Linked DNA regions of Homo sapiens: regions 2 and 3 are each linked to region 1. Evidence: fine-mapped expression QTL. A gene starts in region 1. Each other region holds a variant in brackets. All regions are shown on one strand. Distances are from middle to middle. Region 1 holds the start of KBTBD11 (kelch repeat and BTB domain containing 11). Region 2 has its middle 33 kb from the start of MYOM2. Region 3 overlaps KBTBD11 (kelch repeat and BTB domain containing 11).

Region 1 (2,803 bases):
CATAAATCTGCACACACGAGGTTGTTGCTGGAGCAAATCTGAAGGCAATGGAACGCTCCCTTCCGTGATGTCAGGAATGGGGAGGATTATTCTAATAATAGCACACTATTAGCTCAGGATAAAAGGCTGAAGGGTTCCATTGACATCCATTAAGGGGTCCTAATTGGAGCCTGAGTAACTGCTCCTTAGTGGGAAATGGAGGCGGGAACCGCGGGGAATCGGGCGAACTTCTCACTCAGGGCCTGAGGGGATGGCTGGAACTTTAAAATCTGACGGCGGCGCCTTTCGTGGGCTGAGTAGAATAAAGCTCGCTGCACTGATTTGTTCCTTTTCTTTTCCTTAGAATAGACACTGGAGTGGGTGGAGGGGGAAACGTGGTTTTGTAGGACTCTAAAGAGGTGGAGGGACTTTGGTTCACCCTCTTTTCATGCTCCAGAATGAGCCCCGCCTGAGAGGAGGGACCCCTGCGGAATCCCGCCCAGACCGCCCGGGGGTCTCCCCAGCACATGGGGCGGGGGCTGCAAGGGGCGCCCGGCAGGACTCGGGAGCCGCGGCGCGGTGGGGCGGGTGGGTCGCGGTGCTCGGGGCTCGCGGGGGTCAGCAGCCAGGACACCCCCGCACCCCGGGCGCAGCGGCGGAGGACCAAGGGCCGCGCTCCCCTCCCCAGGGCCCCGAGTCCAGGAGAGACCCCCGTTCGCTCCGGACAGCCGATCCCCGCGACCGCCGAGAGCCAAGCGGAGCAACCCCGGGAGGAGCCCCCGCCCTGGCCCCGCGCGCTTGGCTTCGGCTTCTGCTCCTGCTTCCGTGCCGGCTGGGGCGGCGGGACCCTCGGCGGGGGCGGTGACTGCGGGCGCGGCGCGGGCGGCTCATTGTCTTCCGGCCGGGGTTGCCGCGTCCCGGGGGAGGGCCTGTGGAGACCCCGCGAGGAGGCCCCCACGCCCCCCACGCGGCCTCCCGGAGGCGGAGCGGAGACCACCCACCGCCGCCCACCCCGCCGCGGGCAGCGCTGCCCCCTCCTCTCCCGGTCCCCCCTCCCCTCCCCTCCGCTCCGCTCCCCTCCCTCCCCTGCCGGCCTCCCCTCCCCGCCTCTCCCCTGCCGGCCTCCCCTTTTCTCCCCTCCCGCCTACTGCCGCTCTCGCCGACCACCTCCCACCCGCCGCCCCCTCCGACCCGCGCCTCGGGCTGCTTCCCGCTCCGCCCGCCAGGCCCCGCCGCTGCCTCCCCGGGGTCCGCCCTACCTCGCCGCGGCTCCTCTTCAGCCGCCGGGCCCGGGACGCGCAGCCAGGCGGGTGGGCTCCGGCGCATGCGCGCGGCCGCTTCCCGGCACCTGTGGGAGCCGCGGCCCGGCCTCTCCGAGCACCTGCGAGCGGGAGCTGCTCCTCCGACCCGCAGCGGGGCGTGGGCGGCAGAGGGGGCGGTGGACAGGCCTCTCCGCCTCTCCAGGCCGCGCGGAGCCAGCGCTCCGGCTCCAGGCTGCGAGGGGCGCGCGCGGGGCGCGGGGAGGGGGGCGGGCGCGTGCACACGGGGCGTTTTCGGGCGCGCGCCCCCTGGCTGGGTCTGCGGAGGGGCTGTGGGTTCCCCGGGGCTTCCCTGCCCCGCGCCTGCCCGCCGGGCGCTTCTCCCCCTCCAGGACCGCGGCCCACGTCGCCACTCGAGCCCGAGCCCGAGCCCGCGCCCACGCGCGGGGGCCGCTTCCTGCGAGGAGGCGGGGACAGGTGTCCGCGGGCGCAAACAGCGGAGTTTCGTGCGCCTATTTTTTGGTAAAAGTAGAGGCGATGCGTTGTTGACATATTTAGTGGTTAAAAACTTATTGCCAAATTCTCAACAGATTCCAGAATTTTTTAAAGTTCACAACACGAGAGTGGACGAAATGTCGGAGCTTTTGCTCATATCCAGAAATGTGGCCTCTGCCTCCCACTCGGGCCCTGCGGTGCAGACGGGTTCAGGGCGGCGAGGACTGAGCCAGGAGCGCCGAGAGTTCCAGCTGCTCCCAGGCTGGGTTCTAATTAACGCTGGACCCCTGCTGGTAAATGCTATTTTTAATGGCTTTGTGCAAATTAATGACGATGAGATTTCCATAAGTACCGAGAGCCAGAGCCTTTACTTTCTCTTTTTGTGTTCTTTTTGCTTGTGACAGTCTTTGCCAGTTCCATGCTGTATACACATAATGAGCCGTTACAACTCCAGCACCAAAGCTAACGCCCCGGGAACATCTTTAAAACCTTTTTCACTCTGTTGCCAAGAAGAGTAGTACCTGCTGTCAGTACTTGAATTACAGGAGGCTGAAACTCAGCGAGCTACTGGGATTTTTTGAAAATTGAAAACTTCCGTTAACTATAGCAGAAACAGACCCTTTTGGTGGAAGCTAAAATAATTCCCATGCTGCTCCGTTTTTATTTTGTTCAGTTTACTCCAAAAATGTTCCAAACTCTACTGTGATCTTCTTAGTGCATCTCTACTTCCTTTCGGCTGCAGAATAATACTTCTTTTTCTCTTTTGTTTTTTTTTAGAGATGGAGTCTCACTCTGTCGCCCAGGCTGGAATGCAGTGGTGCAATCTCGGCTCACTGCGATCTCTGCGTCCTGGGTTCAAGCAATTCTCCTGCCTCAGCCTCCCAAGTAGCTGTGACTACAGGCATGCACCACCACACCCAGCTAAATTTTGTATTTTTAGTAGAGACAGGGTTTCACTGTACATTGGCCAGGCTGGTCTCGATCTCCTGACCTCAAGTGATCCACCTGTCTTGGCCTCCCAAAGTGCTGGGATTACAGGCATGAGCCACCGCGCCTGGCCTAACTACCCC
Region 2 (2,673 bases), 39 kb before region 1:
GGAGGAGGGAAAATTTCCAAACTCATTCTACAAGGCCAGTATTGCCCTGATACCAAAATCAGACAAAGACACATCAAAAAAAAGAAACTACAGGCCAGTATCCCCAATGAACATTGATGCAAAAATCCTCAACAAAATACTAGCAAGCCAAATTGAATAATATATTAAAAAGACATTCAACATGACTAAAGGGGATTTATCCCAGGGATGCAAGGATGGTTTGTGATAGGCAAATCAATCAATGTGATATATCATTCAACAGAATGAAGGGCAACAAGCATCTGATCATTTCAATTGATGCTTGAAAAGCATTTGATAAAATTCAACATTCTTCATGATAACAACTCTCAAAAAACTGGGTATAGATGGAAAATATCTCAACACAATAAAAGCGGAACACAATAAATGTGGAAAAACTGAAAGCCTTTCTCTGAAGATCTGGAACACGACAAAGATTCCCAATTTTTTTTGGTTTTTTGAGATGGATTCTCACTCTGTTACCCAGGCTGGAGTACAATGGTGCAATCTCAGCTCACTGCAACCTCTGCCTCCTAGGTTCAAATAATTCTCCTGCCTCAACCTCCCAAGTAGCTTGCCCACTGCCATGCCTGGCTAAGTTTTGTATTTTTAATAGAAATGGGGTTTCACCATGTTGGCCAGGCTGGTCTCAAACTCCTGACCTCAAATGATCCACCCTCTTCGACCTCCCAAAGTGGTGGAATTACAGGCATAAGCCACCACACCTGGCTAAGGATGACCACTTTCACCATTATTATTCAACATACTACTGAAGGTCCTTTCCTAGAGAAAGAAATAAAGGACATCCACAATGGAATGCAAAAAGTCAAATTCTCATTGTTTGCAGATGATATGATCTTACAATTGAGCTCTGGCAATGATGCAGCCGATCCATGTCATTACACATTTGTCCAACCCCATGGAACTCACAACACCAAGAGTGAGCCCTTATGTAAACTGTGTACTCTGGCTGGTGATGAGCTGTAGGTTCATTGATGTAAAAACGCCCCACTCTGGCAAGGGTGTTTACAGTGGGGTTTACACTATATGTGTTGGGGGCAGGCGACTTACGGCAACTCTGAACCTTCCTCTAAATTTAGCTGTGAGCCTAAAACTTGTCTGAAAAATAAAATCTTCTTTGGCTCATGATCAAAGAATGCTAAAAAGAATTTGATGTTTTATGATCTGCAGTTAATATCATAATACTATTATCAACCTCCCGCCCTTAAGACTTTACCAAGCACAAAACTGGATGCCGAAAGTAAACACTGCTCTGCGTTCCGGACCCCCAGCTGCCATTTTCCTTCCCTCTCCTCCTGTCACTGGCTCGTCGCGGGACAACCTACTGTGTCCCTGTGGCCACCGCATTTCTGCTCTTAATCATCTGCTTTGTGAGCCTAGAAATGACAGTCGTGCATGTGAGAACGATACTTAGATTACAAACAAAGATGACGTGAGAACACAGGATGTTTGTGTGGCTTCTTGGAGCTGGGGACATCTGTTCCAGCAGCTAGAGGCTTGCTTCTCTGTGTCCTTACGGGCTCCTGGCTGCGAGTAAGTATTAGAGGACTCGGTGCCGCTCTTGCAGGCTGGAC[T/C]CCCCTCCGCTTTATTTTACTATGAGCTCATCGCCTCTGTCACTCTCTGTAAGCGTCTTAAGCGTGGGTGTCCCACTTTACGGAGTCATAAATCCTCTCACAGTGATTCACACAGGGACCTCACCTCAAGTACATTTTGAACTAGAAAGCTAAATTTGTGACAGGCAAAGTTACAAGAAGGAGATTTCAGCCAGATTTTTTTTTTTTTTGAGACAGAGTCTCACTCTGTAGCCCAGGCTGGAGGGCAGTGGTGCAATGTCAACTCACTGCAACCTCCACCCCCCAGGTTCAAACGATTCTCCTGCCTCAGCCCCCTGAGTAGCTGGGATTACAGGTGCGCACTTGCACCTGTCAGGATGGGCGGCTGAGGTCCTCAGGTGCTACGGAGTCTCTGCTTCCTCAGCCCACCGTGGCTTGGTCAGGCTGTTCACATTGCAGTTCCTGGGAACTGTTTGGGATTCTCTTACTGTAAGAGGGTTTGTTTTCAATGCCTAAATGCCTTCTTTTATCCTACATGGGGTTTGTGACAAGCCACAGTCTCTTCGGGGTGATCCAAGTTAATAGCCACAAGTATCTTTGCCAGGAGAGCGTGTGGGGAGGACACCAACCACCTGGCGAGCTCCACACGGACAGCGATCCTAAACGTGCTTAGATTCAGCCACCTGCTGGGAGGTCCTACAATAGCGTTTTTAACAGCGTGGCAATGCGAGCACTCACCTCTGAATTCCCTGTTGAAATGCACATCTCTGGCTGCATCCGGGATATAGCACGTGAGAATCTCTCATGTCAGGACACAGAATCCCTGTGTTTAAGGAGTAGCTGCAGTGACTCTTCCGGGCCCAGAGGCTGGACTCTGCCATGGCTATCTCCACACAGCCGTCTCATTAGCACTCTGGGGACTGCTCTGATTCAGATTTTAGGAACATGAAACTAAGAACGTTGATGAGGCTTAGTGGCGTGTCCCAGACTATACAGACAGCAGAAAACAGAGCTGCAATAATGAACTGTGAGCGACCGCCAGCGTTTTACCTACTGAGTCACAACCATTAGTGAGGAGCGT
Region 3 (2,803 bases), 32 kb before region 1:
ACCCCTGGGCCCGGTACCAGGCAACTGGAGACCACCGTGATAGCACAAAGCCCACTGGAAGGACACAAACCAGTGCAGCGAAGCAGCTCCCCCAACCTGCCTTCCCTAGGAACCAAAGTCTAGGCGCTGGCCTCGGCTTCCACCTGCTCCTGTGCAGCCCATCCTGGTGTTCCCGAGGTCCTAGGTGGTGTGCCGTGATCCCCCGCTGGGACCCGTGAGCAGACCGAGGAATCCAGGGCACCTGGGAGTGGGAACAGACACCCCAACTTAGAACCTCTGTGCCAGGGGAGCTTCAGGAGCCGGTGAGGGCAGTTCCTCACTTAACGGGCAGGACGTGTCAACCCTGGGTCCCGCAGGCAGAGCTACGCTCCCTGATTCACAGGAGAAAAAGCCGCATCTGACGCTCGCTGTGGAGAAAGAGAAAAGCACTCGGGGCACATCAGGAGGACTGGCACTTTCTGCGTGATTTATTTCATCTCGGCATGAACTGACAAACATACGAGGCTCTGCACTATTTATGCCCAGGATTTTAAAAGTCAAGCATTAATAAATACATTAACTACACAGATCACAACAGCTGCCCTGAACTTGGCCTTCAACAGGTGTAGTTTACCTTTAATAAATGGTAACATTTGAGAATCGCTTAGAGCTTGAACAGGCTTTGGAGGAGCTTTGATCTCACATGAGAACCCGTCTCCTGTTTCATATGCGTTCAATCCAAATCCATCCACTTGGCGTGTCTGAAGCTCCTGCCAGCACAGTGTCTGTGCCGGGTGCCCGAAGGCTGCACAGTCCAGGCTTCCTCCCGGATGTGGAAAACGTGGAAATGATGTGGCCACTGAAAGAAATTCAAGACAACTGAAACAACTGCAGATTTCCATTTTCAGCTCGTGTTTTCTTATGAACAATAACATTGCAGAAGGGGAAATATCAGAAAGTTGATTGATTTTTAACCCAAAAACAGAACTTTTTGTAAGCTAGGAAAGCATCTAAAATTAACAAGAATACAAAAATGCACTTTTGTTTACATTTGCTCTATTTAGATCTTACAAGAGATTATGTCTTGAATCTATCCTGACTTCAGCAAAAGACAAAAGAACGTTGAAAACATCCTATTTCCAAATC[G/C]TTTACAGGAAGTTACCTAAGAGACTGACAGATTCAACGGCTGCTACCAGAATTACTGAAGTGACACCAGAAATTAGCAGAAACAGAGCAGATGATTAATTTCTTACTTATTTGTAGCCAAACTTATACAGTCACGAGTTTTAGTTAAGTAGCCAAAGAATTTCCACAACATTCATTTTCTTACAGCAGAAGTCGGTGCCTCCACAGACTCAGAAACCAAATCCCGAAGTTCCAAATCCAGCTCTACAAAGCTGCAGGAAGCAGTGCGGAGTGGAGGGATGTTCCCAAGAGGAAGAATAAAACCGGAAGGAAAAGGAGGAAGGCTCAAGCTCATTCCTCTGCATCTCAAATGAACCTTGATTGGCAATACAGAAGGGATTGCTGTCAACTAAGCAAAAGGTCAGGCTTCCATGCATAACATTTTCCCCAAAAGACACCACTGCCTTTTCAGACATTTGGAAAGGCCCCTGCGTATGGGTTAATTTCACGAGTCAGACATTTGGAAATGCCCCGGCATACGGGTTAATTTCATGAGGAGTGTGGACAGCTGTCATCAAGGCAATAGCCTCATCTAACTATTTTAATGGGTGGATGACCAGGAATATTTTTGCACCAACCTTTTTCCTACACAGTGTTGGACGCAGACTTAGAACACCACTTTGAATTGGAAAAGGTCCTACCTGGGGCATCAGCCGTTGCCAGGCAGTCTCAGCAATGCCTCTGCCCTCCCTGCAGCAGTCCCAAAATGAAAGCCACACCTTGGAGGGTGTGGCTTTTCTCTGTTTCATGGGTGCAAACCCTAGCGGCTCCACACCCCAGGGACTGGCCCCCAAAAAGCAAAAACACTGCTCATGGCGTGGCAGGTCCTCTAGTATGTATTTTTATGTGATATCACTATTCAGAACTGTGGTGTATACTATTCTATAAATTTCCACAATAGGTTGGCCGGACATCCTTTAATGGTGGGTATTAATTCCTCTTATTCTTTACGTTTCTTAGTGCATTTTGTTGTGAGGTGACAGGGAGCACCTGGGGCTTTGCTGCCGGGCCCCACAGGAAGCTGTGCTACATCTAGTGTGAGCATTCCTTCACTAAATGAAACGCTGGAAAGCCATGGGAACCGCACAGGACTGTGCAACCACCCCCATCCAACATCCACCACTTCTCATATCCTTTTCCGGGGACAGTGTTACTCTGGAAGCCTAATTTCAATATTTCATTTTCAAACAATAAACATTACAGGAATGATTTCACAAGTAAAATCACAGTGATAACAGCATATGAGTTTGATATTTAAGGACTGAAAATATTAGCCTGGTCCTGGTCCCATTTCATATAAAAATTTCTACCATTAATAAAATTCTAGAGGAAAAGGCAGGACAGTGTGAATGGTACATTGCTTAAAATGAACATTATTTGTTTCCTTTTGCTGTAAATACTGTTTCTACAACCATTTCTCCAGTATACTCCTATAAAAGGCCAATCAAGTCAGGCGATATGAAGTCTGTTTTTCTTTCCCAAGATGATTAACCAAGTTGCCAAGCTATCCCCTCAGTTCATGAGTAACCATGGGCAAGCAGACACGTCCCCAGAACATACCGTAACCCAGATCATAAATTCCAGCCCCCGAGTCATGCATAAGGTTCAAGCTGATCACTTCTAAACACACTTAACTGAG

Evidence for each region. PIP is the estimated chance that this variant, and not a neighbour inherited with it, causes the effect.
Region 2: its variant is fine-mapped to the expression of KBTBD11 in skeletal muscle (GTEx, PIP above 0.99).
Region 3: its variant is fine-mapped to the expression of KBTBD11 in whole blood (TOPMed, PIP above 0.99).

Annotation. Positions count from the first base shown.
Region 1 is chr8:1,972,371-1,975,173 of GRCh38, reverse strand. It overlaps KBTBD11 (kelch repeat and BTB domain containing 11), which reads right to left and starts at 1,497. Exons shown (of 2, transcript NM_014867.3): 1 at 1,239-1,497. It overlaps KBTBD11-AS1 (KBTBD11 antisense RNA 1), which reads left to right and starts at 1,829. Exons shown (of 3, transcript NR_136275.1): 1 at 1,829-2,026; 2 at 2,511-2,634. The region is part of intron 2 of KBTBD11-OT1 (KBTBD11 overlapping transcript 1); the gene reads right to left.
Region 2 is chr8:2,010,975-2,013,647 of GRCh38, reverse strand. No RefSeq gene overlaps it. Among named protein-coding and RNA genes, the nearest start is that of MYOM2, 33 kb to the left of the region's middle. The variant T/C (reference allele first, on the strand shown) is at 1,614.
Region 3 is chr8:2,004,580-2,007,382 of GRCh38, reverse strand. KBTBD11 (kelch repeat and BTB domain containing 11) reads right to left here. Exons shown (of 2, transcript NM_014867.3): 2 at 447-2,803. Among named protein-coding and RNA genes, the nearest start is that of KBTBD11, 32 kb to the right of the region's middle. The variant G/C (reference allele first, on the strand shown) is at 1,126.